Linked DNA regions of Homo sapiens: region 2 is linked to region 1. Evidence: fine-mapped expression QTL. Tissue or cell type: fibroblasts. Region 1 holds a variant in brackets; the other region holds the start of a gene. All regions are shown on one strand. Distances are from middle to middle.

Evidence for each region. PIP is the estimated chance that this variant, and not a neighbour inherited with it, causes the effect.
Region 2: ARHGAP42 starts here. The variant in region 1 is fine-mapped to the expression of ARHGAP42 in fibroblasts (GTEx, PIP above 0.99).

What each region holds. Positions count from the first base shown.
Region 1 is chr11:100,808,891-100,813,288 of GRCh38, forward strand. All of the region lies in intron 3 of ARHGAP42 (Rho GTPase activating protein 42), which reads left to right. Among named protein-coding and RNA genes, the nearest start is that of ARHGAP42-AS1, 120 kb to the left of the region's middle. The variant G/A (reference allele first, on the strand shown) is at 1,590.
Region 2 is chr11:100,684,910-100,689,307 of GRCh38, forward strand. ARHGAP42 (Rho GTPase activating protein 42) reads left to right here and starts at 2,379. Exons shown (of 24, transcript NM_152432.4): 1 at 2,379-2,923. The coding sequence starts at 2,770. ARHGAP42-AS1 (ARHGAP42 antisense RNA 1) reads right to left here and starts at 3,046. Exons shown (of 2, transcript NR_133571.1): 1 at 2,724-3,046; 2 at 1-794. RefSeq lists silencers at 1,749-2,043, 2,094-2,283, 2,584-2,753 and enhancers at 1,980-2,690, 2,404-2,453, 2,774-3,143.

The DNA of each region.
Region 1 (4,398 bases):
TGAAAAGCCTAACTCTTAGGGGTTCTTATCAAGATGCTATGTTACTTCATCCTGTGATTTATCTGTGTGTCACCCAGGATACTCATTTGCAAGTCAAACAGGAAATTGGTTGGAAAGACATTGGGGCATCTCATTTATCTGTGAGAGGGCCCACATTGCTTGTGGGATTAAGAAACAGCCAGAATCACAAACTCTAAGGCCTCTAAGAGGTTTTTTATCTTTGCCTCTCATTTGCTTATCGGCCTCATTCTGTTAGCTGGCTTCTTCCACATGGTGAGTCATAAGCATTGTACTAAAACTCACAGAAATTGTTTCTAGATAGGATTGTCTAGTTTTTCATTTTAAGACAAGATGAAGAAGAAAGAAAAAGAAAAAAAGAAAGGTAGGAGAGGCTCTGATTGGCCCAGCTAAGGTCACTTAAAGACGCTTGACCAATTACCCAAGGTTAAAGGGACAGAATATGTTGCATAGACTTTCCTTTGAATATAGAGCTATTTTCAGAAACAAAGGAATTATTATGAGTTAGGCAATCACTCCAACTCTTGTCTATTGTAATATGGCAATGACCTTGAGAAATTTCCGGTTAACATTGTCATTTGAACAGAATACTATGATAGTTGTGTATGAAATTTTACAAGACTTAGAAACATGTTAATTCACTCAAACATTAGAAACATTTACTTAAAAATTAGGAGTCACACAAAGATGTACACTATTACTGTTTAAATTCAAAATTGTTTTGGAGGGCCTCTAGTCTGTTCAGTAATATGAAACCAGAGGCAGGCTGGGTGTGCTGTGTTACTCCTGTAATCCCAGCATTTTGGGAGGCCAAGGTGGGTGGATCGCATGAGCCCAGAAGTTTGAGACCAGCCTGAGCAACATAGTGAAACCCTGTTTCTGCAAAAAATACAAAAATTAGCTGGGCATGGTATCACAGCTACTTGGGAGGCTGAGGTGGGAAGATCACTTGAGCCCAGGAGGCGGAAGTTGCAGTGAGCCAAAATTGTGCCACTGCACTCGAGCCTGGGTGACAGAGCAAGACTCTGTCTCCAAAAAAAAAAGAGAAGCCAGAGGCATAAAAATCTAAGACTTAAAATGAAAGAAACAAAATTGTCATATTATGATATGATTTTCCACATAGAAAATTGCAAATAATCTATAAATTATTAGAGATAAATAAGAGAGGTTAGCTAGGTTAATAGATGTAAATTAATTATATTTCTGAACAGAACCTTTAAAAAGTGGCAAAAAAATAAGAGACTCAAGGATAACTAAACAAAGGATGTGCAGGACTTACATGTGTAAAATTAAAAAAAAATATAAAGATAGTAAAGGGGAACTAAATAAACAGAAAACCAATCAATGAGTCAGTTCAAAAGAATGGTTTTAACCAACATTCTTTTTTCCCCTGACTATACTAGACAAGATAATTTACTGTAATAATTCAACTGATAGCAATTTGGTTAACTTGTTTTTACTAGTGTAGTGGTTAACCACCGGCTGGTCCTGAAGCTAGTGTATTTCCTTTTTTCATTTGGAAAATGTGGCCACCGTATGAAAACCTTACCTTTTTTACATTCCAAACTTCT[G/A]CCAAACCTTTGTATCTTTCACATATTTTCAACAGCAGATACACTGCTATTTGAAAAATGAAAAATGATGTACTCTTCATTTGCATAACCATATCTAACTGCCTTGGTGGAAAAAAAACTGTGCTACGTAGTAGTTGCTTTATTTCTATTGAGGGAAAATAAAATATCCCCTCCCATCTGAGACTTTTAATTCTATTCACTTTACATTTTACCTACAGAATTATTTCTATTACCACAGGTAACAGAATACTATGTAAGTGATGCAAATAAAATAACATGTGTTTTCAGGATCAGCAGGAAACCAGAACACAAACTGGGAAAGTCTAGGTCCTAATTAATTATTGACATCTAGTAAAGTTTTAAGCTCCTTGAGACTTTGTTTTCTTTTTTTATAAATGAGGAGTGTTCAGCATTTCCCAAAGTGTAAAATGAAAACCACCAGCAATAAAATGAACATTTTATTTATTTATTTATTTTATTTATTTTGGTGGGGAGGGACAGAGTCTCACTGTGTTACCCCGGCTGGAGTGCAGTGGTGCAACCTTGGCTCACCGCAACTTCCGCCTCCTGGGTTCAAGTGATTCTCCTGCCTCAGCCTCTTCAGTAGCTGGCATTACAGGCATGCGCCACCACGCCCAGCTAATTTTTGTATTTTAAGTAGAGATGGGGTTTGACCATGTTGGCCAGGCTGGTCTCAAAGTCCTGACCTCAGGTGATCCGCCCACCTCAGCCTCCCAAAGTGCTAGGATGATAGGCGCGAGCTACCATGCCTGGCCAGAATAAACATTTTAAATGTTAGTAGTTCCATATTTATTTCAATGTGTATTGGATACAGAACAACTCTGGATTTAATGAAAATTGTTGCTTTGTAGGATGCTTAGTAAAAGAAGTAAATCCATTTATAAGGAAAAATGTAGGACATGGCCATGGCCAAAATCACGGAAGTAGAATGTGAATGACTAGAGTTTGGGAATTCATGGAGTAGGTGATCTATGTTGCTTCTGCCTCGAATGTCTTGACTTTCTTTTTTTTTTTTTTCTTTGGAGATGGAGTCTTGCTCTGTTACCCAGACTGGAGTGCAGTGGTGTGATCTCGGCTCACTTCAACTCCCCCGGGCTCAAGTGATTCTTCTGCCTTAGCCTCCTGAGTAGCTAGGATTATAGGAGTGCACCACCACGCCTGGTTAAGTTCCATATTTTTAATAGAGATGGGGTTTCATCATGTTAGCCAGGCTAGTTTCAAACTCCTGACCTCAAGTGATCCGCCTGCCTCGGCCTCCCAAAGTGCTGGGATTATAGGCATGAGCCACTGAGCCCAGCCCGGATGTCTTGATTTGATTGTCTTCTGTGACTGTATACTTTGCTGAACAGTGTCAATGATTAGCCCTGAGTTCACTACCTCATTTATGGAGCTTACACTTAAAAACTGCTGCCAAAAACTGATTTCTTTTCAATTTCTTTTTTAAAACAATTTTTTAATGTTATATTTTTATTGCTTTTCATAGAGATGGGGTCTCTCCCCATGTTGCCCAGGCTGGTGTTAAACTCCTGGGCTCAAATAATCCTCCCACCTAGGCCTCCCAAAGTGCTAGGATTACAGATATGAGCCACCGTGCCTGTCCCTCTCTTCAGTTTCTTATGAATGAATGAGCCTTCATATAGTGAACACATTAATAATAGGTTCAGCCAGGTTCTGCTTATATCTTTTGCTTAAAGACACAAGCTGTAAACTGTAGGATTTGGAAAACTTTATAGCAAAGCGGATGGTGGACCATAGCATAGTTTCATTTTTATTTACAAAACAGACGAAATTTATGGGATTTTATACCCAGAAGTAGTTGGAAAGGATAGCAATAATTTATTTTCAACAAATATTTATTAATCTCTTTCTCTGGGCTGGATATTGCTCCAGAGCTGAGAATACAACTCTGGTCAAAAAGAGCTTCTGCCTTCCAGTTGGCAGAAACAGACATAACAAAGAAGAAAGTCAAAATGTATTATCAGATGGTGATATATACTCTGGAAAAAGGGAGATAAACTAGGATAGGTAGCAGAGGGGGCTGTAGGTGAGTTTTTAATGTCAGGAAATCAAGGAAGGCCTCAGTGAGTAAATGTCATTTAAGCAGAGACCTGACAAAGAAAGAAGTCAGTCTTACAACTCTCTTGGGAAAATGCTTTTCAGGTTGCCCAGACAGCTTTACAGCAGCAAGTACAAAGGTCCTGAGGCTGGAAAGTGCTCGGACTGTTTGAGGAGGAGCATAGGCAAATATGGCTAAAGCACAGGAACAAATGGGAAAGTGGGAAGAGATAAAGTGTGGTTGATTGGGCGGGGGGATTATGAAGAATATGTAGGACTCTTTAGGCCTTGTAAGGAATTAGACTTTTGCTCTGTAGAAGGGTCTTTCAGCAGAAGTGTGACATGAACTGATTTAGGAATTTAAAGGACTACCCTAATTGTTATGCAGACTGTAGAGGACAAGACTGTGTGCTGAGCTCCCCTTAGGAGGCTGTTTTCGTTATTTCATTACTTAAAAGACAATGATAATTTGCACCAGGATGAAAGTAGTGGAAGTGGTAGAAGTGTTCAGATGCTAGGTTTATTTTGCAGGTGATACTAAGAGGATTTGCTCATTGATCAAATGTAGATTGCAAGAGAAAGGGAGGCGGCAATGATGTGTCATTGGTAGGATTTCTCCACCTCAGCACTGTTGATATTTTGGAACAGATATGTTTTTGTTATGGGGGTCTGTCCTGTGCATTGTAGGATGTTTAGCAATATCCCACACCTCTATGCTCTTGAGGTACTCTAC
Region 2 (4,398 bases), 120 kb before region 1:
AAAGTATGAATCATAGGAATAAGCATGAGTAACTATGAAAACACCTACAAGAAATAAGCCCATTATAACATGATAAACTTTAGGGAATCATGAGTGAAGGGTAGGAGAAAAAATCCTAATTCCATGTAAATGCAATGATGGGCCTGAGTGGAAACATATTGATAAACAATAGCATCAATGTATTATTAGTACAGCATCTGTGTGAGGCTGTGGAACACAGCATATTCTGCCTTATGCTTTATGGGTACTTATTTTCCACATTTCCTTTTTCTGAGAACTGCTTGAGGTCACGGATAATGCTTCTGTCTTTTTATAGAAATCACTTCCCCACCCAGACCTTAGTAATGTAGACAGTAGACATAAAACATATCATTACATACATGAATGGGCAAATGATAACCTGTATCATAGAATGTACAATACATCTGCCCTGGCATGTAACACTTTTAAAGAAAACTAAACATTGACATCCAACATATTAAATGCAACTTATGAAACACCAATGATGCATTTTTAAAGACTTAATCACAGTACGATGATTTAATGAAAAACAAGAAGAGAATGTTATATTTTATCGTTTCGTATCTCAGCAGTTTGGCACTGGATTCAGTTGATAGGAACAGCAACATGGCAAAAGTTGAAAGGAAACTGTTTGGCCTGGGTGATTTTTTGTCTTTCAGGCAGAGTAATGAGTAAATACAAAATCACCTCTGGTGAGACACAGTCCACTGGTGTTTATGTCATGTCATTTCATTAACTGACAAACAGAATTACTGCCTCTCCCTTCCCCAAACCTGCAAAAGAAAAAAAAAATTGAAGAGTATTTAGTTAACAAAAACAAATTTAACACTTGGAGTTAAAATGGCTCTAATAGTGACTGGTCATTTTGCCAATATGGGGCCAAAGATGTGAATATGGATGGAAGGTGTTTTGAGATGGAGTCGTTCTGTCACTCAGGCTGGAGTGCGGTGGAGTAATCTCGTAATCTCGGCTCATGGCAATCGCCGCCTCCCGGATTCCAGTGACTCTCCTGCCTCAGCCTCCCAAGTAGCTGGGACTACAGGCGTGCGCCACCAGGCCCAGCTAATTTTTGTATTTTTTAGTAGAAACTGGGTTTCACCGTGTTGGCCAGTATGGTCTCCAACTCCTGACCTCAAGTGATTCTCCTGCATCAGCCTCCCAGAATGCTGGTATTACAGGCGTTAAGTCACTGCGCCTGGCCCATACTGTTTACATTATCTTATCTGTTTTAGGTTTACATGTTATTTTTAATGTTCCTGTACATTTAAAAAATTGAAACCAAGAATCTTGACTGGCTCTGAAACTTAATTGGGAAAAATGTAAAGCACTTTAGTGGAATTTTTCCCATGATCTGTAGAATAGTTTTTAAACAGATGGTTCATATGGACAAAGCAATGAAAATGCAGAAATTAAAAGCAGATCCTTAAGAACAATATCCGAGTTCTCAGAAATCCTATAGATGATGTCAGGACGAGATGTAAAGCAGTCGTTTCTTTTGCTGTCAAGGTTTTAAGAGAACAGAAATTTATTAGGTGAACCTCCACCGGAGGAAGGATAAAGCCTGTGGGTAGGAGTTAACTATTTATTTCAAACTCCAGTCCACTTCAACAATTTGAAAATTTTCCCGCTCCTAGGACAATTCCATCCAGGTGCCAATAGGAGATACTACTATTGTGATGCAAATAGGTATTCTACTAGAAGTAGGAGCACGTAAGCAGAGTGAGGATGACTTGAAAAATCGTCCCACCTTCCCAGCTATGGAGTGGGGGCAGGGGGAAGAAACACCTCCAGGCTGGATCATTGAAGCTGAGGGGTGGGAGAGCGACGGGACAATTTTTCAACGTGGAATTCAAATGCATTCGGTGGGGAAGTGTGAAGTAAAATCTAAACGAACGCTAGACAGTAGTATCTTCCATCTACGCTTCAAAATACTCAGACTTTAGGGAAACTTAACGTTGGTTTTTCTCCCAGAGAATTGTAGGGAGTGGGTGGAGGGGACACTGTTAGGGGAGGTATATTGGGAGTCAGATCCTTTTGTGGAGCGAGGGACCCCGAAGTGTCACCAAGGGCTAGCCGAAACCAGGGGCCCAAGAGGGGACAGGGCTAACACCCCAGCCAAGGCCGGAGCGCAAGCGCGGGGCTGCAGCGCGGGGAGCCCTGGAGCCCAGTGCGGGCGGACGGGTGGGGCAGGAGGGCAAAGGGGCGAAGGGGCGGGGTGGCGCTGGGTGGGAGCGCGGCGGCGGGGAGGAGGGTCTGGGAGCCCGGGTGCGATTTGCAAGCGCTCTGAGCCTGCGTCCGCCGAGGGGGAGGGTTTCCCCAGCCCGGCCGGAGTTGCGGCTGTGCGCTGCTTCTGGCTCACAACGCCGACGACTGTCAAGAGAGTTGGGGAGTGGAACTGCCGGAAGTGTCTGCGCGCCGTGAGAGAAACTTTCCTGCTCCGGCCGCGGCCCGGAGCCTCGCCGCCCCCGCGTTCCGAACGACGATGCGTCCAGATGACAACAACCTGAGGGGACTCGCGCCTCGGCCCGCCGCCCGCGCCTGCGCTCGCCTAGCCTCGGGGGAGGAAGACTGAGCCCGGCGCAGGCGGCGCGGCGCTCGGGGCCCGTTTCCTCCGCGCAATCAGTCCCCTCGCGTCCCGGCGCCTTCCCCGCGATCGCGCGACCCCAGCGCCCGCCGCGGCCGCCGGCTGCCCCCGCCCTGACCTCCGGCCCGGACGTGTCCGCGGCCGCCGCTGGCAGCGCCTGTGCCATGGGGCTGCCCACTCTGGAGTTCAGCGATTCCTACTTGGACAGCCCAGATTTCAGGGAGCGCTTGCAGTGTCACGAGATTGAGCTGGAGCGAACCAACAAGTTCATCAAGGAGCTCATTAAGGACGGCTCTCTGCTCATTGGGGCGTTGAGGAGTAAGTAGGGCTGGCGGGGGAGTGGACACCCGCATCTGGAGAGTCCCCGCGGGGTGCGGGTCCGAAGGGTGGGTTGGAGGAGTCGGAGCTTCTTTTGTTTGAATGGATTTGGGGACAAAAGCTGAAGAGCTCCCCTGCTGGTGGCCAACAAAGTTTGTTCTTGAGGTGTTCTTTACTTACTCACATGTCTACAGGGATGGGGAAAGTTCTCTACAGGGCACTGGAATATATCCTGAGGAAAGTCGTTCAAAGTCATCTCGTTGTGTAATGCTCCTAGGAAGATGTTGGGGACTTTAATTTTTTTTTTTTAATTTATTGTGTCTATTAATAGTTTGAACTAAAAAAGCCCTTAAGGGGGGAATCAAGAGTTTGTCTTAAAGATAAAATTAGGCTAGTTTAGTGATATTGAAAGAAAATTATTAATGTCTCTCATACGTCAGTGGCTCTTCATTGGACACAGTCATTGAGTTGGCTTTTTAAAAAGCATACATTTGCAGTTTTGCCATTTTGTAAGATAATGGAAGACAGCAAGGCACCAGTGCATTTTAACTCTGCAAGTTTTCTGTGCGTCTTAGTTTTGGTTTGCATTGTGTGGGTGTTGGGTGTGTCATTGGGATGAAAGTTAAGGGGTTAAAGGCCAATCAGAACTTTTGATGATCTGTAGAATATAAAGACTGTTATAGTCTATAATATAGGGCTTCTTCCACCTCCTTTCCCATACACCTCTTGATCAAATTTTCCTTCCTCCTTTTATCCTCTGGATCTTAGCTTTCAATTCCTAAGACCTAAGAGTATCTGAAACTGAAGAGTTTCTCTTACAGAGAATTGAGCACAATTACATGATATGGCTTGTTACCTTTCCCAGGAGGTATTTGCATCTTTTAAAAAATTTATTTTTATTTATTTATGTATTTATTTATTTTCCATCTTCAAAGGAGCCTGTGAAAAGTATTTGCATCTTAATAGAGGCTTCTGGATGTTTTAGCTACTGAAATGAAGCCGTGGAATCTCTGGTCACTTAAAGCTGGGTGAGTGAGGTACTTTCAAAAGGTAGAGAGACCTTTGGGTGATCTAGTTACCCCCAGGACATATATGGGGGCATCATCTTTGTATAACAACATGATAGGGATGTGTGCGCCTAAAACTGAGACAATACTAGTATCGGATCTATATTTTGAAACATGTATTAACAGTAAGGAGAGAGCTTAGCAAGATGTCTTGAAATTAATGTGCTCCAAAATATCTTTTAATCATCCCAAATGTTAAAACATTTACTTAACCACTTGTGTTACTTAACCAAGGTAAAGATAATATATTTTATGCCCATATTCACTTAATTTCTGAATTTGAGGCTACTACTAATAATGGTATTTACTGTGATTTGTGAAAAATATAGTTTGTCTGCAATTCTTGCCACCCTACATAAACACTAATGTGAACTGTCCTTCCTCTGGCTTGCAAATCCTGGTTAAAGT